2 linked regions of the Homo sapiens genome follow. The protein of the gene in region 2 interacts with the protein of the main gene of each other region in a pairwise test. Each region holds a gene or a part of one and is shown on either strand. Other genes may lie near its edges.

Region 1 (7,000 bases), on a different chromosome or scaffold from region 2:
TTGAAGGTCTCCTCCCGGGTCAGCTCCACCCCGTCCTTCAGCCTAGCCGGGTGGGTGGGTGGCAAGTGCTGTGGCCTCTTCTGGGCAGATGCCCCCAACACCCATGCCCCGTGCTTCTGGAACTCACCATTTGACTTGCGCCCCCTCCTCCGATACTTCACACTCAAACTCCACCCGCTGCCCCACCATCACCAGCTGGTCCTCCAAGGGGCGCGTGATGAGCACAGGGGGCTCTGTCCAGGCAGGGTGAGCATGAGGGTTGGCTCCCCTGAGGCCATCTCCTCCCCAGGTTCCCACATCCTCAGGTCCCAGGCCCACCTTTCACAAAGAGCTCCGTGCTACACTTCTCGCCACCCACCACGCACTGGTAGGCTGCGTCGTCCGCCAATGAGCACTGGCTGATGGTCAGGGTACGCTTGGCACCGATGGACTCAAAGATGTACCTGGGTGGGGGCCGCAGGGAAGTGGCAGGAAAGCTGCGGACACCCCTCCGGGCCCAGTGCGCCCCATGATAATCCCTGTGCCCCCCACCCCAAGCCATCCAGAGGGGAACTTACTTGCTGTAGAACAGAAGGGGCCGTTGAAGTGTTCCCGACGGGAGGAAGTGAGCCCGAGACAAAAGGAGAGAGAGAGAGGGACCGGCAGGAGCAAAAGGATGGGAAATTAGGCCCAGAGAGATGGGGCTGAGAGCCACACCGAGTCAGAGATACGCATGTGGAGAGGGGCAGGAGGCAAGGCTATGGGGGTCCCCACCTCCACCCGAGCCCCCCTCCCCACCCCAGGCTGCACCTGCCGCTCATCTGGATCTCCTGGCCATTCTTGAGCCATTTGACCTCAGCGTCATGGTCAGCCAGTTCCACGGTCAGCCGGATCTTGTGGCCTTTGCTCACCTGGTAGGCCGGCTCCAGCTTCTTCTGAAAGGCTGAGCACCACCCCTCAGCCCCGGCCACCCCACCGCCCGCACCCTGCTCCCCCAGGCCAAGCTACTGTGGCTGTGGCTGGGGCCCAGGTCCCCCCCTCCAATCCCCTCTGTGCCGCCCCGCTTCCACTTCTCTGTGTCTCTATTTCTTTTTGTTTTGTTTGTTTGTCTGTTTGTTTGTTTTTTGGACAGAGTCTTGCTCTGTTGGCCAGGCTGGAGTGCAATGGCGCCATCTTGGCTCACTGCAACCTCTGCCTCCCAGGTTCAAGTGATTCTCCTGCCTCGGCCTCCCGAGTAGCTGGGATTACAGGCATGTGCCACCACGCCCAGCTAATTTTTGTATTTTTAGTAGAGACGGGGTTTTACCATGTTGGCCGGGCTGGTCTTGAAATCCTGACCTCAGGTGATGCGCCCGCCTCAGCCTCCCAAAGTGCTGGGATTACAGGCATGGTGTCTTCATTTCTTTATCTGTGTCTATGTGTCAACCCACCTCCTTGTCTCTGTCTGTCTGACCTTGTCCTTCTGTCTTCCTTGGGGTCCTCTCCACCTGCTCAGCTCAGGGATTGGGTTAGGGGCTTCCAGAAAGACAGAAGCTTGTCAGGAGAACTGGGGCTGGGACAGCTGTGCCTTCTCTTCTCTCAGCAACCCCTGAGTTGTGTACTCTTCCCAGGCGCTCCCACCTAGCAGCCCTCTGTGCCCAGCACTCTCACTCCCATCTCAGCCCCCAGGGCCAGTGCGGTGGTCCCCATGCTGCTGCAGTGGGGGAAATAGGGCTCAGAGAGGCGACTGGCCCAATGCCACCAGCCCAGCAGGTGTGTGGCAGAGCTGGGTCTTGAGCCCAGCCCTGCTCCACAACAATGCCTCCTCTTGCGGCCGTGTTTGTAAAAGCCCATGTTGCTGCTGCTGAGCCCAGGGAGGAAGTGGGGGCTCCATCCACCGAGCAGAGAAGGACCCCTGAGTCCTCAAATACTCTGGCTGGGCCTGGAGTCAGCTGCGGAGGGGCAGAGATCTACTGCTGGGTGCTCTGTGACCTTGCGCTAGTTCCTTAAACCCTCTGTGCCTCGGTTTCCTCAGTAACATGGAAATGGTAATAGTCCTTCCATCATAGTGTTGTTTCGAGAATTAAATGAGATAATTACATAAAGCACCTAGTGGCTGGCTTAGGAAGGAACTCACTCACTTTTTTTGAGATGGAGTCTCATTCTGTCACCCAGGTTGGAGTGCAATGGCACAATCCTGACTCACTGCAACCTCTGCCTCCCGGGTTCAAGTGATTCTCCTGCCTCAGCCTCCGGAGTAGCTGGGATTACAGGCGCCTGCCACCATGCCCAGGTAATTTTGTATTTTTAGTAGAGACGGGGTTTCACCATGTTGGTCAGGCTGGTCTTGAACGCCTAACCTCAGGTGATCCACCTGCCTCGGCCTCCCAAAGTGCTGGGATTACAGGCGTGAGCCACTGCACCTGGCCAGCAATTTGCTCTTTTTACTGTTGTTGCTATTCCTGGAAGACACCCCTACCCTCGGAGGTCCCCATCTGCCTTGCCAGCCTCCATCTTTTCCTCCTTGGGCACCTACAGTCCTTTGCTTGGTGCCCTCTGGGCTCAGCAGTTCAGGAGTTAACCCAGAGGAACATTGGTGGCATTCAGGGGATCCCTGGCTTAAATGGGGCCACGGTGCCGGTAAGGGCCAGGCCACCTAGCGATGGGGTGATGGGAAACCCAGTGAGGCTGAGACAACAGGGAGGCAGGGCAGAGGGATAAGGGGCCTGGGGGAGGTCAGCAGGGAGGGACTAACCAGCTCCTCTCCCCGTCCCCATGATCGTGTGTGTTTTGTGTGTGTGCTTTGGGAGGGGCTTGTCTCCCATATCCTGCATGGAAGCTGACCCCTCCATTCAGTCGGTGTTTATAGAGCGCTCGAGGTGTGTGCCAGGCCCTGTGCTAGACCCAGACATGGTGGGGAGAAGGCATGTGAGACCCCTGCTTTCCCGGCTCACACCCGCCCTTGTCAACCCCTCAGTGGAGAAGGGCTATTCCTGGGCTCTCCTCTTTCCATCTGCCTGGGGGTGAGGGTAGTTAACCCAAGCCCTCCTGCTTTGTTTGCCTGAGAGAAAGATTAGCCAGGCTCTTTTCTTTGCCTGTGTGTGGCTCTCCAGGCTTAGCGGGCCTCTTCCCTTTTCTTTTGGGTGTGGAGAGGGTTAACCGGGCTTCATTTCTTTTCAGAAGAGGGTAGAGAAAGAAAGTGTAGCCTGATTTTTCCTTGGTGAGGAGGGTTAACCTGAGCTCTGTCCTTTTCCTTGTGGCTGTCCTGGCCTAACTTTTGCTCTTCTCTTCTATCTCTGTGGTAAGGGGCTAACCTGGGCATTCTTGGCTTTTTCTACACAAGGAGGGGTTAACCTGGGCTCTTCTTTCCTGTGAGTCTCTGTGCTAAGCCGGACTCCGCTCTTTCCATGTATGTGGACGAGGTGGGGGGCTAACCTGTGCCCTCTCCTCTCCCCTGTGGGGAAGGGCTAACCTATGCCCTCTCCTCTCCTGTGTAGGGAAGGGCTAGCCTGTGCCCTCTCCTCTCCCCTCTGAGGAAGGGCTAACCTGTGCTCTTCTTCTCATCGCGCCTCATGCCCTTGAGCCTCTTTAGCATGCCGCGCAGGTCAGTGACGCCGTACTGGAAGGCGATGCGCTCGTACTCAGATGGGGGTGCCTGCCGTAGGATCTCCCACACGTCCTCCTCTGCTGGTGCCTCCAGCTTCGAGTCCCTGTGTCCCGCAGTCTAGGCTGTGGCCGGGGGCAAGACTGCAGCCCCCTGGGCGGGGCTTCCTGGGCCCAGGACCAAGGAGCTGTAGCCACCCCTGTCCCTCTGCCCCTTCCCTTCTGGTGGGGCAGCTGGAGCTGCTCTGGGTCCCAGGCCAGGCAGGACTGGGGGCCAAGGGAGCTGAAGAGGGGCTGGGGATCTGGAGGGGCTCCTGGCAGAATTAGGGGTGATGAGGGTGCTGTGCTATGTTGGGCACTCACCTCGGGGTCCGGAAACTGCTGCTCCAGGGGTGGGGGTGGGAGAAAGGGTAGGTGGCACATGAGAGGTATGGCCACCTTCCCTCAAAGACCTGGACCCCACCCATGGGCCTTTACTTCCTCCCTATTTTCCGCACTTGCACTCCCTGTGTTGTGGGGCACCCATGCTGCTCCGGAGGCTCTGGCAGGACCTCCTGTGTGCATTACTTTTTCTTATCCCTCCTAAGCTCTGACAGATAGGTGGGTGGCAGGAGAAGCCCAAGGCACAGAGACTCACCCCTGTCCGTGGGGAGCCGCACCCTGCTCTGAGTCTCTCACCACAGCCTCTCAGAGAGGGGACGGGAATCCCCTCTGCACCCACCAGCGCCCTGCCGCCCCCAAACACCCAGACCCCGATTCTTACTCTCTGGGCCACAGCAGCAGCAGCCATAATGGAGGGGCCGGGGGAGAGGGAGAGAGAGGGCAGAGAGAACATAAGTCAGTTGGGCCGACCTGGTAGACCCTGCAGCTCTGGGGACCCTCTCTCTGTTCCTTCTGGGTCCCCGGAGTTTACGGAGGGAGCTTTTGCAGCCTCAAGTGTGGAGTGGCCGTGGGGGACACTGTGAGGATGACTGTTGACGGGACATAATGTCTGCAGAGCCCTTTAACTCCTTCCACACTGGGATCATCCCCTCGACAGACAAGGAAACCAACTCAGAGAGGTGCAGTGTTGTGCTCAGGGTCACACAGCTGGCAAACCACAGTGCTGGGATTTGGAGCCAGGCCTCACCAGCTGCCCCAGGAACTGCCACCCAGGACTCACCTCTTTTTCAGCAGTGAGCTGAAGTCCAGAATCCCAGTGTCCTCATGGCTATCACTATGGAGAGGGACCCCCAGTGAGGCTGCAGTGAGGGACTGGAAAGGGATTAGGAGCAGGATGGGAGTGGAGTGGGGAGGGAGAAAGGGACACTAGCCAGATTGGGCTCCCACCCGTCTCAGACCCCTGGGGGTCTGCGGATGGTGCAGGTAGGGCCTGGGGCAGGGGTACCTGATCCGCCGACCACCTCCAGCCAGGCTCCTGTGGGGGTTAGACTCAGTATCCTCACCTGCCTGGGAAGCTTGCTCTCCCCTGCAGCCCCCACTGACTTCAGCTCCGCCCCGCAAATCATCCCCAGCCCTGACCCCCAGTCGAGACCCTGAAGGGCCTCAGACTCCAGCACTGGCCTCCCCCAGGCCCTGAGGATGGCCACTCACGTGCGGCGGAAGGCTGATAGGAGGTCCAGGTCTCCGGTGCCCATGGCCTCTGGGTTCAAAGGGTGGAGAGATGGGGGAAGGGGCTTCAGAGGGGGCCGTTTGAGAAGCCCTGCCCTGGGGGCGGCCTCTGAGTATTCACAGACTTGCCCATTCATGACCCCATGAGGCTGGGCATCTGCCCCAGGATCTCACCTTCCCAGCCTTTCCCAGGGTCAAGGTACCAGGCAGGTGGGACGGTTTATTGTCCCCAATTCCCACCCATCTCTCAACTCACCTTCACCCATCGCCCAAACATTCAGACAGTGCCAGGCCATGGGCCAGGAGCCGTGACACCAAGATGATAAAACAGAGTCCCACCCAGATGAGACCCGGACTCAGCCCTAAGCCCCCACGCCTACCCTGCAAGCCTTGGGGTTTCTCTCACACCCTGTGTGTGCAGCACTGGGCACGTGGCCAGCACTCATGTCTGGATGGGACGAGGCATCCTCCTTAGTGTTGGGAAAAGGAGGTAGGAGACCAGGACCCATGGGGAGCCCGAGCCCAGGACAGACACCAGGGCCCCCTCACCGTGGACAGTGAGATTGAAGTTGGAGCAGTCAAATTTGTCCTTGGTGGACACCTCACAGCGGTAGCTGCCAGTGAAGGCAGGCTGGGCATCGGTGATGTGCAGCTCGAACAGATAGACCTGTGTGCATGGAGGGACGGGGCGTCAGGGGACACCAGGGGCCGGGAGACAAGGCTCCGCACCCTTAAAGGAGACTGGGAGTGGCCGGGCGCGGTGGCTCAGGCCTGTAATCCCCACTTTGGGAGGCTGAGGCGGGCGGATCACATAAGACCAGGAGCTCCAGACCAGCCTGGCCAACGTGGTGAAATTCCGTCTCTACTAAAAATAACGAAAATTAGCCAAGTATGGTGGTGCACACCTCTAGTTTCAGCTACTCGGGAGGCTGAGGTGGGAGAATCGCTTGAACCCAGGAGGTGGAGGTTGCAGTGAGCCGAGATTGAGCCACTGCACTCCAGCCTGAGCGACAGAGCGAGACCCTGTCTCAAATTATATATATATATATATATTTAAAGGAGGCTGGGAGTGACAAATGCTCATCGATCTTCGCACCCTCAGGCTTTAGTTAACCCATACAGAGTTTTTGTACAGAGAAAGGGGACTATCTCGAAACCCATGATTGCCATCTGCTGGCACATGGTTGTGGTGAAATACAGGCTTTTGTGCAATGCACAGCCCCGCACAGCAGAACATGTTGGCCTCTCTTGCTAGAGGCCCCCTTGCCTAGCCCAGGACTGGGGAAGGTTGGGAAAAGCAGAGGCTTGGAGTGAACAAACAAGGGGACTTAAGCCTTAAGGTTCTGGTGGGCAGGGCGGAAAAAAACAAAACACAAAAAACGAAGGCTTAAGGTTCTAGGCCTATGTCTAAGTGACCTTGGAGCAGCCACTTAACCTCTCAAGCTTTGGTTTCCGTGTCTGTATAATGAGGAATTGTTCTGGTTAATCCCTGAGAGTCCCTTGAGCCCTTAGCCCTGATACTCACCCATCCAGGGGCTTTACAACCCCACTAGCTGGTGCCCCCATGCTTCACAGTGTCCTCCAGGCTTCCTGACCACCCTGGGCGACCCCCCACCCCCGGCCAAACCTTATTAGGTGCCCCCTTGAGGTGATCATGTCCACCAAGTCTCCCAGGTCCCCGACAGTGCTCCCATGAGCCTCATCGCACTCCCTGGCCCCCAGGCCTCCGGGATCTCCCTGTGGGCCCCTGGCCCCTCCACCTGCCTCCCAGATTCCCCACACCCCTTGCTTGCAGCTCGTGTGTGCCTCTGGGTCTCATGGTGCCCTC
Region 2 (16,640 bases):
GAAGTATATTCATTTATTCAGCCATTCATACAATAAACAATTATAGTTAGAGTGACAGATATGATAAAATTGGCATAATTATTGTTATCTTATAAGATTGTTGTGAAGTGTAAATAAGTTAGAGCTTGTAAAGCTTTTATAAATATTAGCTGCTATAATAGTTATTTCTATTAAGGCATTGATATTATTTTTACTGTTTTTGTATTGTTTTGCTCTTCAAAACAGGGATAGGAAAGAAGGAATCATGGAGGTACAGGATGGAAAAGAAGAAGAGATGAAGGGTAAGGGGGAGAGAAAATGATAGAAAGATAGCGAGCTACAGATGGAGAAGGAGAGGGAGAACAATAGGGAGAGATAGAGAGAGAGAGGCAGAGAGAGATTGAGGTCAAGTTGCTTCTCAATGATTTCACAAGATATTCCTGTAAAATTATGGTTCTTAACTAGTTTTACCTGGACAAACAAGAAAAGAATTAGAGAAATAGACTGACTTAGGGCATTATGAATTCTTTGTTTCCTTTTGGATTTGAGGGTTTTTTTTGTTGTTGACGATTCTTATTTTTTGTTTTGTGGCTAATTGGCAAAACACACTACCAAACATGCCAAATAATATTTTCATTCTATGTTAATTATAAGATGACATTTCCCCTTCAATATCCTACTTAGTAGTTTGACAGAAAGGGTCTACTCCTCTTAAATAAGATCAGCTTGAAAAGTTTCCAGTGCTATTCATCTTATAATAGCCAAATTTCATAGTTGGCTATAGTGCAATAATTTTAGAAGATATTTTGTTTTAAGGATGAGTATAGTGGAATGCAACAGGCCTCAGATGAACTTTTCAGAGAGAAAAGGTACAAAAAGGTGTATCTCAGAAAACATTTTTTTATTTCCTCTATACATTGTGACTATTTAATGGAACAGAGCATTCTTTTGACCACTTTTTTGTACATAATTAAACCTAGTCAATTTTAAAGTGAGGCACTGTAATTACTGACCAAGATGTATCTACTCAATGCCAAAAAAGTTGTTTTGGATTATGTTGATGTCATAGTGTTTAAAAATTACAACTTTTCTGGGTCAGGCGCGGTGGCTCATGCTTGTAATCCCAGCACTTTGGGAGGCCAAGGTGGGCAGATCACGAGGTCAGGAGATCGAGACCATCCTGGCTAACACAGTGAAACCCCGTCTCTACTAAAAATACAAAAAATTAGCCAGGTGTGGTGGTGGGTGCCTGTAGTCCCAGCTACTTGGGAGGCTGAGGCAGGAGAATGGCGTGAATCCAGGAGGCGGAGCTTGCAGTGAGCCTAGATCGCGCCACTGCACTCCAGCCTGGGCGACAGAGCGAGACTCCGTCTGAAAAAAAAAAAAAAAAGGAAAAGAACTTCATGTCTAAAACACCAAAAGCAATGGCAACAAAAGCCAAAATTGACAAATGGGATCTAATTAAACTAAAGAGCTTCTGCACAGCAAAACAAACTACCATCAGAGTGAACAGGCAACCTACAGAATGGGAGAAAATTTTTGCAATCTACTCATCTGACAAAGGGCTAATATCTAGAATCTACAATGAACTCAAACAAATTTACAAGAAAAAAACAACCCCATCAACAAGTGGGCAAAGGATATGAACAGATACTTCTCAAAAGAAGACATTTATGCAGCCAAAAGACACATGAAAAAATGCTCATCATCACTGGCCATCAGAGAAATGCAAATCAAAACCACAATGAGATACCATCTCACACCAGTTAGAATGGCAGTCATTAAAAAGTCAGGAAACAACAGGTGCTGGAGAGGATGTGAAGAAATAGGAACACTTTTACACCATTGGTGGGACTGTAAACTAGTTCAACCATTGTGGAAGTCAGTGTGATGATTCCTCAGGGATCTAGAACTAGAAATACCATTTGACTCAGCCATCCCATTACTGGGTATATACCCAAAGGATTATAAAACATGCTGCTATAAAGTCACATGCACATGTATGTTTATTGCAGCACTATTCACAATAGCAAAGACTTGGAACTAAGCACCAACCCAAATGTCCAACAATGATAGACTGGATTAAGAAAATGTGGCACATATACACCATGGAATACTATGCAGCCATAAAAAATGATGACTTCATGTCCTTTGTAGGGACATGGTTGAAGCTGGAAACCATCATTCTCAGCAAACTATTGCAAGGACAAAAAACCAAACACCGCATGTCCTCACTCACAGGTGGGAATTGAGTACATGGACACAGGAAGGGGAACATCACACACGGGGGCCTGTTGTGGGGTGTGGGGAGGGGGAGGGATAGCATTAGGAGATATACCTAATGTTAAATGACGAGTTAATGGGTGCAGCACACCAACATGGCACATGTATACATATGTAACTAACCTGCATGTTGTGCACATGTACCCTAAAACTTAAAGTATAATAAAAAAAAAAAGAAAAAGAAAAAGAAAAATTATAACTTTTCTGGAGTATTCTCATGGTTTTAAATTTCATATTATAGATTAAGCAGATACAAATTTGGCTTGACAATGAAATTAGCAAAACATAGTCTTAAAATTTATTATGATAAAAACTATTGAAACAAAATAATTTAATTGAAAACATTTGAAGTCACATGTGGAGAGCCATCACTTCCATAGTTTTTTCAAAAAGGTTGTATAATATTCATAACCAAGATTATGAATATGATACATTTTGAAATCAAATAAAGATGGATGCAATCCTAGGTAAATCATACAAATTGTTTAATCTAGTTCAAGCCAGTTTAATTTGATTAGCCTCATTTTCTCCAGGTATAACATGGCAATTGCAACACTTACTTCAGAGGGTTGTTAACATAAACAATAATGATTAAGTGTTAACTAACATTTTTGAGGGTTTGCCATGTGCCAGACACTGTGCTAAAGCACTTTACATATACACCATTAGGATTATATAAGCTGATGCACAAAAAGATACGTAGAAGCATTTCTGGCATATGGTAAGCCCTAAGTTATTAGTTTGTTTTACAAATAAGTACAAATATAAATAAGGCTAAATAAGAAAAAAAGCTGCCTTTAATGAACACATATACTAGTGGGGAGATAGACCTATAAATGGATAAAAACAACACCATGTAGTAAGTGCTGTTATGTTGATAAAGATTAGAGGCAGCACAGAGGAGGATATAATCAGACAATGGTACTCTAAGGTGCCCTTTCTGTCTTTCTTTCTCCTCCTGCCTTCTCTTTTTCTTCATTTCTTCCTGTCACCAATCCATTACCTAAACAAATGTCCAAAGTTATGAGTGAATGCAACTTTATAGCAGAAGATGAAAGAACATTCCATTTCCATTTCCCCTCTCTCCCACATCAAGCTCCCATTCCAAAGCTGCTATAAATTGGCATAAGCAGGATAACTATTTAGCTCTTTCTGTCTTACATTTAGCACTATATTGCTGTTTATTATGTTGTGGGTAAAAGCTATGCCAGGAAGATTGTGTATTCGAGCTGATAGAGCAATGGTGTATTATGTGGTGAAAAATCTCTTATAATGAATGAAATTAGCATCTACCGGGAATGCCATAAAGAAATTGGTTAGCAAATGAAAAACTGTTTACATCAGTGATCCTTTACGTTTCATGCTAGTTTAAATGTTCCTTTTTGGGCATTGTATACAGTCTCCTTGCTATCTAAATGTTTAGAGAAAGGCTGATGTCAGGCAACATAACATAATTGTTTATCACAGGAATGCTCTTTATAAGACAAATGAATAAGGGTGAGTAATGAGATTCTAACATTTATTTAGCACCTATAATGCTCTAGATACTCATTTAAATGTCATTTCATACAGTGTTAGGTTTGATCTTCCCAACTACCTTTAAAATTTTGTGAATGAGTGAGTAAGACAATTTACATTCTCAGCACACTATTCTTTTCTTTCTTTCATCCATCATTTTATTCCAAAGAAAAGAAAATCCTTAGAACTCTGCCCTGGAAGCAATTCACTTTTTTCTCCCAGATTATGCTCTCTACCTTGACGAAATCAGACAAAAGCAGATTATTCTGTTTTTGCTTGCTTGTTTTTGATTCTCTTGACTCTCTTTAGACCACACCAGTTGCTTACTTTCTGTTCCCATATTCCTCATCCCTTCACTAATATCACCTCAGGCAAAGAGTTCTCAGTGCAATTTGGATATCTTTCTAGAAGTATAGTTTTCAAACTTTAGAAGTATCATTTTTATTATGCATAGTTTTATCTGGGGAGCTTGTTAAACATTCAGGTTATTGGAAGACATCTCCAGAGATTCTGATTCACATGATAAAGGGTGGAGTCATGGAATCGAAAATTTTAGCAAGTACTACAGTCTCCATCTCCATTAACATAAGAGGCCCCTAGTTCTTGCAGAAACATCATTCTAGACTGGATAATCCTCTCCTCAGCTTCCTTATCATCACATTCTGTAGCTTCTTTAATGTCATCAGCATCAGGCTATTGGTCTTTCTCTCCAAAAATGTCTCACCATTATCCTCAGTAAATTTGATAGCCATTTTGATTAGCCTTCTAATACTCTAGTCTCAAAATTCTTCAAATCCCTTTCAATCAAAATCATTAAAAGCTATATTTCAGATTTCGGCATCTTCCTAAATTGTGCTAATACTTTACATTTTTAATTTTGAAATCATCCTCTTCATAAAAACTTTCACTCTTTCTAACTTTTAATAAGCTATTTGTTACTCTCACTTTATGATAAGTCTTCTATCCTTCAAACTGTCCTTATTTATCCAATCAATCATGATAATAGAAATTTCCAACTACTCAATGCTTACTATGGGTTGGGCCCTGTACTTAGTATTTAATTTACCTCATTTTGAAAATATCCTGTGAGGTGATTATTATTCACCTCATTTTATAGATGAAAATGAGGATTAAGGAGATTAAAAAACATATCCATGGATATACAGCTTATAAATAGAAGAAGCTGTATTTAAAACCATGTTTGTATGACTCCAAAATTCTTACATTGATTCACATAGCTTTCTTACTCAAGTCAGATAATATGGTGAAGACATTATTTTTTCTCACTTTTCCTAAACTTTCTATGGTACTCATTCATTCTTGCCTACACACCTTTACTTAACTATGCTTTTTATCTACAATGATTCCAAAAATCAATGAATAAATCAGGACCTAAATCTTGTTTTTGTAAGCAGGGTATGGTAGGAAGAGCGCTATCTATGGAGTCAGGCAGACCTTGACACAAATCACATTCCAGAATTTACTGACCATGTGACTTGACAACTCCCACTGCCTTGTCTCTAATCCTTAGTTTATCATCCACCGGAGTTAATATTATTCGGCACACATGAAATGACAACAATCTACATATGACTATAGATTAAATAATGTCTTGTATTTGATGTATCCAGAACAACACTTGAATACGAGCTGGCACTCAACAAATTCTGGACTGTAAGCTCCCTGACACAGATTCCTGCATCTCACCCCCAATGCTAATCAGAAAAAAGAAGGTCACATTTGTTGCATTTAGTAGAAACACAGGAAAAGTCCATTATAGCAGTTGTCAAAACAGCTTGTAGTTGTCGATGTGGTATCAGAAAGAACCTACATTTTAAATCCATTGTTAATCCTAATATTCAGGTTTGGATACATCTAGTTTAAGCTAGCCTTCACCTATGTGCTCAATACTTTCTAAATTAAAAAATAATACTAAATAACTGAGGCTTTGACCTTTAAAAGTTGAGGAAAATCTCTTCAATGTAATCATATTTCATTTAGCATATTTATTTAAGTCAATAAGAGCTAGATGTTTATGATTAATTTCTATATTCATACTTTTCCAACAAAACAAATACATATTTATAATTCTACTGTACTAACATGCCAGTCATATTTCTACAGGAATTTCAAATGTAGTTCCATATCTCAACATGTGATACTACTTGCAAAAGTCAGATCAGTGGTATCTCATCACAAGTGTCAGTGTTGAGTTCATCATCCTGGGCCAAACTATAAAGAGAACCAACTACTTTTTGAACCATAAGTTGAACACTTGTGAAAGCCTTGTTACATCCATTGACGAATTTCATATAAACTATATTATACATGGGTGATTTTATTTGCCAATTATGTGATATTTATATGTTTACTATATCTAAAATTTTATTTTAAAGATGTGTCATTTGGTCATTGCTTTACACTTGTTTTCTAAGTAAAATAGAGGGAGTTCTTTGCCATGAGTGCATTACATAACACAGCTATAAATGAACATGGCTAATTGGCCTATATGGAACTTTTCCTTAGTCAGGCAGGTAACTTTCTTGACCCTCTAATGGGCATCTAGTTTCTCAATGTCAGATTCAATTTAACCAGAAGGCTTTTTGTGTATATAAGGGTCTTGCTCCTCTTTTCTGAACATTTTGTGTCTTCCAAGGTTGTGACACTTAGATTATTTTTCTCTTGTTATCATGGAACAAAATCTACTGAAATCCTGAAGGCAATATTATATGTTGTTATATGATTGTTCAGGGGCAGAATGATACTCAGTTCCATTAAGGGACAGCCTTTCAATGTCAAGAGACCAGAGGGTTTGTTAAAATTGGACTTACCGTCATAGTTCAAAGAGAACAATGTGGCCAATATGCGACCACTATGTGGGAAGAAAAATCTTGCTTTTCATTGCCGGCATGGTTTACAAGAATGATCTAATTCCTGAGAAGATTACTGAGATCAACAATAGCTTGCATTCAAAGGCTAGCCTTTAGGTTTTTATTTTTAAACTTTAATGATGGCAGATTACAATTTATATTTTAAGGAGGTGAGATGTTATGTTTGCATTTTGAGAGCTATATGAGTGGTCAAAGAGAGATAATCTGACATCCTAAGGCTTAGAACATGACTGCTTATGTCTGAGGTTCTACGGGTTTAAAAAATATACAGATACTTTAAAAAATAAGGTGAATACTGAAGACACTTATACAAAGAAATAATGACTCTTACAACTTTACCCAAATATATTCCTTAGTTCTGTCAGTTCTTTTTCCTTGATCTGCAGGTCATCTTCTAATCTTTCTATTGTGATAACATATGATTCACTGACTTTTTTCTTCCATTCATCTAGTAAAGAAGAACAAATGAGATTGATTCATAGTTGTGTTTTGCAAAATGTAGACACAGATCATAACATACAAGTAATCAAAACTGTTTTTTATTCTAGATTCTACAATACTTAATTTAAATTACTGATTGTGTGTTTAAAATGCAGATGTTTATATTTAAAATGCAATCATATTGAATTGTAGTAATGAAGAACCCATTCGATATTGGATAATATATTTACATAGAAAAATATATTTGACTTATTTCATTTGATTTTATTGCATTTTAATTATAGCAATCTCTAGTTGCAAGACGGTTTTTAGTTTTTAAATACTAGATACTTAAGATATAATTCTAAAATCCCTACATTCAGCAATATTCCAAATTTTTTTCTGTAACATTATACCAAGGAACTAAAATAATATTTTTGTAAGAAATTTCTTGTTTCCTATAAAGATCTTCAGAAAAAAATAATTTGAGTTCAGATAGTTTTTCAAAGACTTTCACAAAACATGCTGCCTTATCTTCCGTATACAAATTAACACATATTCCAATGAGTTGTTAGTTATCAGTAACTATAATTGAACCATATTACACTTAAGGAAATAAGAATAATTAGAATAATTACCAGTACAAGTTTGGGTTGGTCTAGATTTATAATTTCCCATTTATTATAAGTTTCTTCCTTTCTCCAGGGCAGTTCTTCAAGTTATAAGATTCCAAGTTCAAGTGCAGTGACAGTCCAGTTGAAAAATACTTTGATAGTCTGGCTAAAAATAAGCCCAACTGCCAAATGGAATGTCATGCAACAATGATAAAGAACAAAATCGTGTGTGCTTTCGAGGGTGAAATCATAAAGGGAACTAATCAGTCTGTTTAAAAGAACTGTATCAAAAATAAATAGCAAATGTTTCAATAGGATTATTTGCTTCCATCAATTATCTACCCATACATACTTTCATGGACCATTTATTTAACAGATAAATCTAGAAAATGATTCAGTTACATCCGAAGTTCACAAAAGAGCTGTTAAAACTACATAGACCTGTTTTCAAGATCATTTTCTCCTAAGCCAAAATAATGGCAGTTGGTAAAGAGTGGTAATAGAATGTGTCTACATACATAAATAAATAATAAAAATTCATTACCTCTAGCATATAACTAATAGAAATGAATGCAGGTTTGGCCTGTATAAGAGCTACATAATTATGTTTGTATGAAGAAATTCTCAACATAGACCAAGATTTATACTATTGTGGATTATTCCGACCATAAGAATCATAGATCAGAATGTAAAACATTAAGTTCTACAAATAGCAATTCGTAAAATAATAAATGACAAGAACAGTAAGATTAAGAATAAGAAAATTGAGCATTTGCTATGTGTCAGACCCTAGTTTACATGCTTTACATATATCTCATTATTTAATCTCATACATACAGTGCTGCTAGGTAGATATTATTCACAAATTATGGATGAGAAAACACAAAGTTACTAGTAAGTTGGAAGTCTGGAATCAGTTCTGACCATGTGACTCTAATATCCAAGCTAGATATTATTGATTTGTCTTCCAGAATTTCTCTTTCATGCACCTTCCATTTACTTTATTAGGACATTTCTCTTTGTATGCATATTGTATGCCTATTTCTACTGATATAAAGAACCCAGTCTATGATGGAGAATAAATGGGAAACCCAGAAAGAAAACATTAAATTTTTCACTATATATTTATTTCAGATAATCTTCTTATACCTAGAAAGTATAAATTTTAATCTTCAGATTCACATCCAGAGGATATAGCTTTAACTTAACAGATACAGATTTCATATTTTCTATAGTTAAATGTTCAAACAACTCTCTTTTTGAATAAATGATTAGACAAAGTTAGGACTCACCATATATTTTTGCTCAGCAAAAGTAATAGAAGTTTCAGAGGTAAGGCTTCCAGACTGATGAGATATAGTTGGCGCATCAGGTGTCTGGCTTCATAGACACTTTTTGTCCTCATCTGGACATATTCTCCTTTTCCCTTCTTATCAGTACATGCCTACCACAGCTGTTGATACTTGCTATACTGCAGTGGCATCTGGTTACCTTGGTCCATACACTCTACATTCTCCTTGTTTGAAAACCAGACATCTTCAGTTCCACCAGCTTTCTCTAAGCACTTCTGTGACCCCCATTTTCTCAGTTTGGAAAGTCTTTGTTTTGTCCAGGGACCTTCCTGCTTAATCTCTTCTTCCTTATCTTGAAGACCATACTGGATAGCTTTCTTTAAAAGACTTGCAATCTCCCAGGGCTACACTTTAGGAAATAATGCACCAGCTCTTTCTCCTCTCAGAGTTTCTTAAAATAATCATGGTTTCTATACTCTGAATCCAGAAGGACAAAGATGGGAGCCTTCTAGAGGACAACTAAATATATTTTTCTTGATCTCTTTTCTTATTTCTAATATCTCGGATCTTCCATCCGTGTGTGTGTGTGTACATGTATGTTTTCCACATATGGAGGAAAAATTAGCTCTTACATCATCTTCCACTGTGTTTCTAATTTCCTGCTTGGGACACAAGTCTGATGTACTGCTTTTTAGAATTTTTCCTTTTGATTTTCAAGAATACTTTTATTCTCTTAAAAAGCCTAGGTTTTACAAATGAAAGCTTTGGCTTTCAAAGGTGTGATTTCTGCGATGAGTTTGAAAATCCAATCAGCAACTCAGTTGAATTCTCCCACATTCTAATGCAATACATTTTGCTGGAAATAAAATGAAACGATAGCAATATAAGAAATGCAGAAAATTACTCAAAATATTACCCAAAATATTAACCACTATTGAACTATAACAGTTTCCTGGTTTGAAAGAAACAATATTTATCTCTAAGCCCTTCTTAAGAATGTGGATCTAGGTAATGGTTTGAGGTACTAGAGTAATTTTTTCTGGGTACCTTCAGCCTGATGAAGAAATGCTGGAAATGTAAATGGTCCAGGATAATATCCTTGCATTCCTTTTCCAAAGAATGTTGGAAAGAAACAACATAGAATCAAAAAATATTTTCCCTAATACTCAGTACATTTCTGTAAAAAGTACTTCTTTCTAATAAAGAGTTGGCCACATACTCTAAGTTGAATCCTACTTTCCCCAGTCCTGAGACGTCCAAAAGTGGAGAAAGCATGTTATATCATACATTATCAAAAACACAACTTGATTACAAAAGTAGTCTGCTTTCAAAGTTTAGTGAGGGTAGGCAACATGAGGAGCTTTGTTTAAAAAAATAGAAACCTGGGCTCCATCCCCAGAAATTCTGATTCAGTACATCAAGAGTAGAGCCCAGGAATCTGAACTTTAACAAGCAACTCTGATGATTCTAATGTAGATGCTACTTGGAGCATCATTTAAGAAGCACTATTTTAAGGTTGCTTAAAGTGAGATGCTACTTAACAGAAATTTTTTTACCTTTGAATTTCATGCAAGAGAAAAGAGATAAGTAGAATAAAAACAAAAGAAAGATTACTTCAGATTATCAAAGAGTTCTATCCTGTGGTAATTCCTGGGGCAATACATGATTTGGCTATGCAAGTATAGTCTCGTATTTTAAAAGTGATTCACAAAAATTGAACCAACCAAGATATTCCTTCATAAGTGAATGGAGAGACAAACTGTGGTATATCCAGAATATGGAAGATTATTCAGCAATGAAAAGAAAGGAGCCATGAAAATTCATGGAAGAACTTTAAATGTATATCACTAAGTGAAATAAGCCAGTCTGATAAGGCTACATCCTGTGTGATTTCAACTATATGACATTTTGGAAAAGGCAAAACTATACAAACCATAAAAAGATCAGTGGTTACAGGGGTAGAGGAGAGGAAGAGATGAGTAGGTGAAGCACAGGAAATCTTTAGAGTAGAGAAATATTCTGTATGATACTCTAATGGTGGATACATGACATTATCCATTTGGCAAAAATCATAGAACTACACAACACTAACGTAAACTATGGACTTTAGTTAAAAATCATTTATCAATATTGGTTCATTCATGTTAACAAATATACTATATAAGATGTTAATAAGAAAAATTGTGTGTGTGTAGGGGGAGTATATAGTAACTCTGTACTTTCTGATCCATGTTTTTTGTAAACTGAAAACAATTCTAACAAAATATTAATTTAAAAAATTATGGAAAAATATAAAACAAATGATGCAAAAAATAATAATTCCTTAAAAAGAGCATTTGAAGTACTCAAGGAAATTTAATAATTTATAAAGAAAAGCCAACTCAAATACATGATTAATAGTAAGGTTTCTTTCTTTTATGCTTGCTCGTTTCTTCATTAGAAAATGTCAGAACACATTTATGAAATATTATTTCTTCAACTACTTTGTTTCAACTAAGTTTGATATTCTACTGAATTGCCTAAATCTAGTTTTAATGCCTCTGTCTTTTCAACTGATTTCTCAGACCACTTCTGCATACAAATAGTTATATTCTAATACTCCTTCAATAAACCCACTTATGTTCTTTCTGCATTATTTTATTTGGGGTTTATACGATTTATTTATCCCAATCTACACTTACGCATCTGCTATTTATATTTATTTTATACTGATTTCTTTATAAAGATTTAAAAGGATGCTTTCAAAATGAAAAACGTAAAAATTGACCTTGACACTTCTACCTTTATGGTTCCAACAGAGAAATGATAAAAGAAAATGTATCCCATGAAATCAAACTAATGCACTTGGAACAATTATTATCACATTTAGAAGTTGAATTAATTTATACTTTGATAATTTCTTCATTGTATATTAGTCCTTATTAATATATTTCCATGTTTTGGGGAAGCATAGAGTTTCAATGCGTTGCATCTGGTTGACAAATTAATCATTGCTTTAAACATAAGAAGGTGGAATTACTAGTTAGTTTATATTTAGGTTTTTTTCCTTTATTTTTAATAAAGATTAAATAATTTGTGTTGAAATAAAATTATTTTAAAAATAAATTGACCATTGCCTAAGATGCATACAACTATTCAAGTGCACACAATTATTTGATTAATTTTCTTTTAAATAATGTGTTTCTGCATTTAAACAAGCATAATTTGTAAGAGTCTTATTTATCAAACAATTTTCTTTCTTTTTCACTAGAATATCTAAGTTTTTAGTATGTTGGATGATGTATAAATCACCATCATCAGTCTGAACATGTTGAGGTAATATTCAGATTAATCCTCAAAAATGAGTAAGACTTGAGAATACATTATAATGAATATATATTTATAATATGATAATATAATGTCACAGTAATTTAAGTATGTGTTCTCAGTATCTTTAACTGTCAGAGTATATTTTAAAAAGGAATAAACAATATTGCTATTTCTGTGTCCAATAAAGTATAACAGCAAATGCAAAGATCATAGTTTTTCCTGTGATTTCCTTTGTTGGTGGGTAAACATGAAATAAAGTTGATTAAATAATCTAGATTAAATAGAGGTAAGAGTCACATTTCTGTAACTGGCTAAAATTTCTTTTCCAAATTTATATGACTTCTTTGAATTGTCAGTCTAGCTCAATTTACGAACTGATCAGTCCATTTATCCATTCAACAAATACGTATTGTACCAAGAAATCCACAGAGCTCATGGGGCCAGAGATGCATGAGTAAACAGGTAACCGCAATGCAGTATTTGTCCTATGATGAGATATACATGATTGGCATGAGAAAGTCCATCTATTAAAGGCTAAATTTCAATCAGAAAAAGTTTCTTTGAGGAATTAAAATAATCAGAATAATCTAAACTTCATGACTCAGGCCACTTCCGTTCCTTCTTAATTCTTTCTTCACCCATCCTAAGAGTTAATTAACCAGCTTAAAAATGATATTGTGTGATAATTATAGTTCAATTAATAACTAATTATTGTTTTGGACAAATAACATTTTTAAAAATGTTATTTAGAATCTAATGTAATCAACTTTATGTTTGTTTGTTTTAAAAATTAGAGGTTTCTCTAATTAGAGGTTTCTAAATCGTATAATAAACAAACATAAAAAATTGGGGGGAGGGAAAACAAAATAATAGTTCTACTTATTTGAGAGTTTTTTTTTCTTTTCTCAATTTTTATTTTCTTTTTTTTAATTTTTCAATTTTAATTTGTGTGGGTATATAGCAGATATATATATATTTAAGGGCCACATGAGATATATTGATAGAGACATACAGTGCGTAATAAGCACATCAGGGCAAATAGGGTATCCATCCCATCAAGCATTTATCTGTTTTGTTGCAAACAATCAAATTAGAAACTTTTAGTTATTTTCAAATGTATAATTAAATTATTTTTGACTGTAGTCACCCTGTTGTGCTAACAAACACTAGGTCTTATTCGTTCTTTTGAACTATTTTTTGTACCCCTTAACCATCCCCAACCCCACCACCTGCTACCCTTCCCAGCTTCTGGTAGCCACTCTTGTATTCTCTATCTCCTTGAGTTCAACTGCTTTTATTTTTAGCTCCCATAAATAAATGAGAACATGCAAAATTTGTCTTTCTGTGTGTGGCTTATTTCACTTCACATAATGATTTCCAATACCATCTATGTTGTTGCAAATTACAGTATCTCATTCTTTTTTATGGCTGAGTAGTACTCCATTGCATTTATGTACCACATTTTCTTTATCCATTCATCTATTGATGGACACTTAGGTTGCTTTCAAATCTTAGCTATCGTGAACAATGATGCCACAAACATAGGAGTGAAGTTATCTCTTTGATACACTTATTTCTTTTCTTTTGTATATGTAATTCAGCAGTGGGATTGCTGGATTATATGATAGCTCAATCTTTATTTTTTTGAGGAAACTACAAGCTGTTCTCCATAGTGGTTGTATTCATTTTCATTCATACTAACAGTGTACAAGAATTCCCTTTTCTGCACATTCTTGCCAGCATTTGTTATTGCCTTTTTGATATAAGCCATTTTAACTGAGGTGAGAAGATATCTCATTGTAGTATTGATTTGCATTTTCCTGATTATAAATGATGTTGAGCACCTTTTCATATGCCTGTTTGTCATTTGTATGTCTTCTTCTGAGAAATATCTTTTCAAATATTTTGCACATTTTTAAATAAGATTATTGATGTTTTTCCTGTAAACTTGTCTGAGCTCTTTATAAAATTCTGGATATTAATGAATCCCTATCAGACGGGTAGTTTGCAAATATTTTCACCCATTTCGTGTGTTGTCTTCACATTGTTGATTGTTTCTTTTCTATGCAGCAACTCTTTAACTTGATGTGATCCCATCTGTCCATTTCTGCTTTGGTTGCCTGTGCTCATGGGATACTACTTGAGAAATCTTTGCCCAGTTCAATGTCCTGGAGAGTTTCCCCAATGTTTTATTTTAGTAGTGTCATACTTTGAGGTCTTGTAGTTAAGTCTTTAATCCATTTGGATGTAATTTTTCTATATGGCAAGAGATAGAGGTCTAGTTTCTTTCTTCTGCATATAGATACCGAGTTTTCCCAGCACCATTTATTGAAGACACTGTCCTTTTCCCAATGTATGTGCTTGGCATCCTTGTCAAAAATGAGTTCATTGTAGATGTATGAATTTACCTCTGGGTTGTCTATTCTGTTCCGTTCATCTATGTGTCTGTTTTTATGCCAGTATCATGCCATTTTGGATGCTGTAGCTCTGTAGAATAATTTAAAGTCAAGTAGTGTGATTCCTCCAGTTTTGTTCTTTTTGCGTAGGATAGCTTTGGCTACTCTGGGTCTTTTGTGGTTCCATATAAATTTTAAATTTTTTTTTCTATTTCACTGAATAATGTCATTGGTATTTTGATAGGGATTGCATTGAGTCTGTAGATTGCTTTGGGTAGTATGAACATTTTAACAATATTAATTTTTTCAATTCACAAACATGGACAATTTTTTCATTTTTGTGTGTCTTCAATTTCCTTCATCAATGTTTTTTAGTTTTTATTGTAGAGGTCTTTCAATTTTTTCATTAATTCCTAGATATTTAATTTTATTTGTAGCTACTATAAGAGGGATTAATTTCTTGATTTCTTTTTCAGATTGTTTGCTGTTGGCATAGAGAAATGCTACTGATTTTTGTGTATGTTCATTTTGTATCCTGCAACTTTACTAAATTTATCAATTCAAGTCGTTTTCTTGTGGAGTCTTTAGGTTTTTCCAAATATAAGATCATATCATGTGTAAATAAGGATAATTTGACTTGCTTCTTTTCAATTTCGAAGTCCTTTTTTCCCTCTTCTCTGATTGCTCTAGCTAGGAGTTCCAGTGCTATGTTGAATAACAGTGGTGAAAAATGGGCATCCTTGTGTTCCACATCTTAGAGGAAAGCCTATCATTTACAATGATACTAGCTATGGATTTGTCATAGATGGATTTTATTGTGTTTAAGTATGTTTCTTCCATATCCAGTTTTATGATTTTTATCATGAAAAGATGTTGAATTTTAGCAAATGGTTTTTCAGCACCAATTGAAATGTCCATGTGATTTTCGTACTTAATTTGGTTGATACAATGTAGTACATTAATTGATTTGCATATGTTGAACCATTCTTGCATCCCTAAGATAAATCCCACTTGGTCATGATGGTGACCTTTTCAATGTGTTGTTGAATTTGGATTGCTCGTATTTTATTGAAGGTTTTTGCATCAATATTCATCAGTGATACTGGCATATAGTTTTCATTTTTTGACAGGTCTTTGGTTTTAGTATCAGGGTACTACTAGCCTCATGGAATAAGTTTGGAAGTATTCCTTCCTTTTCCATTATTCCAAACAGTTAGAGTAGGATTGGTATTATTTCTTTTTTAAAATGTTTGGTAGAATTAAGCAATGAAACCATTGAGTCCAGGCTTTTCTTTGCTGGGAGGTGCTTTTTATTATTGCTTTGGTCTCTTTACTTGTTATTCGTCTGTTTAGGTTTTGGATTTCCTCATGGTTAAATTTTGGTAGGTTGTATGTGTCTTGAAATTGATTCACTTCTTCTATATTTTCCAATTTATTGGCATATAGTTGCTCATAGTAGCCAATAATGATCCTCTGAATTTCTGTGACAACAGTTGTATTGTTTCCTTTTTCATTTTTTATTTAGATCATTTCTCTTTTTTTCTTAGCCTGGCTAAAGGTTTGTACATTTTGTTTATCTTTTCAAGAAAAACCCTTTTTGTTTCATTGACATTTTATTTCAAATTCATTTTTCTTGCTCTAGTCTTTATTATTTCTTTTCTATTAATTTTGGGTTTGGCTTGGTTTTGCTTCTCTAGTTCTTTAAGGTGTATCATTAGGCTGTGTATTTGAAGTTTTTCTACTTTTCTGATGTAGGCACTTATCGCTATAAACTTCCTTCTTGTTCTGCTTTCGCTGTATCCCAAAGATTTTGGTATATTTTGTTTCCACTAACATTTGTTTCAAGAAATATTTCAATTTCCTTCTTAATTTCTACATTGACCCACTGAATATTCAGGAGCATATTGTTTAATTTCCTTGTGTTTGTACAGTTTCCAG

Evidence for each region.
Region 1: the proteins of TNNI3K (region 2) and MYBPC3 interact in a two-hybrid assay, tested with the Homo sapiens proteins (one study listed by BioGRID).

Annotation. Positions count from the first base shown.
Region 1 is NC_000011.10:47,342,703-47,349,702, forward strand, and holds part of MYBPC3 (myosin-binding protein C, cardiac-type), read right to left. Parts: intron 5,840-7,000; coding exon 5,722-5,839; intron 5,204-5,721; coding exon 5,155-5,203; intron 4,979-5,154; coding exon 4,949-4,978; intron 4,778-4,948; coding exon 4,724-4,777; intron 4,328-4,723; coding exon 4,325-4,327; intron 3,943-4,324; coding exon 3,925-3,942; intron 3,669-3,924; coding exon 3,505-3,668; intron 923-3,504; coding exon 790-922; intron 561-789; coding exon 558-560; intron 444-557; coding exon 319-443; intron 234-318; coding exon 128-233; intron 43-127; coding exon 1-42. UniProt on the Homo sapiens protein: Thick filament-associated protein located in the crossbridge region of vertebrate striated muscle a bands. In vitro it binds MHC, F-actin and native thin filaments, and modifies the activity of actin-activated myosin ATPase.
Region 2 is NC_000001.11:74,226,581-74,243,220, reverse strand, and holds the start of TNNI3K (serine/threonine-protein kinase TNNI3K), read right to left. Parts: upstream 7,835-16,640; 5' UTR 7,770-7,834; coding exon 7,730-7,769; intron 7,120-7,729; coding exon 7,011-7,119; intron 1-7,010. Other genes in the region: FPGT-TNNI3K fusion protein, read right to left, coding at 7,011-7,119. UniProt on the Homo sapiens protein: May play a role in cardiac physiology.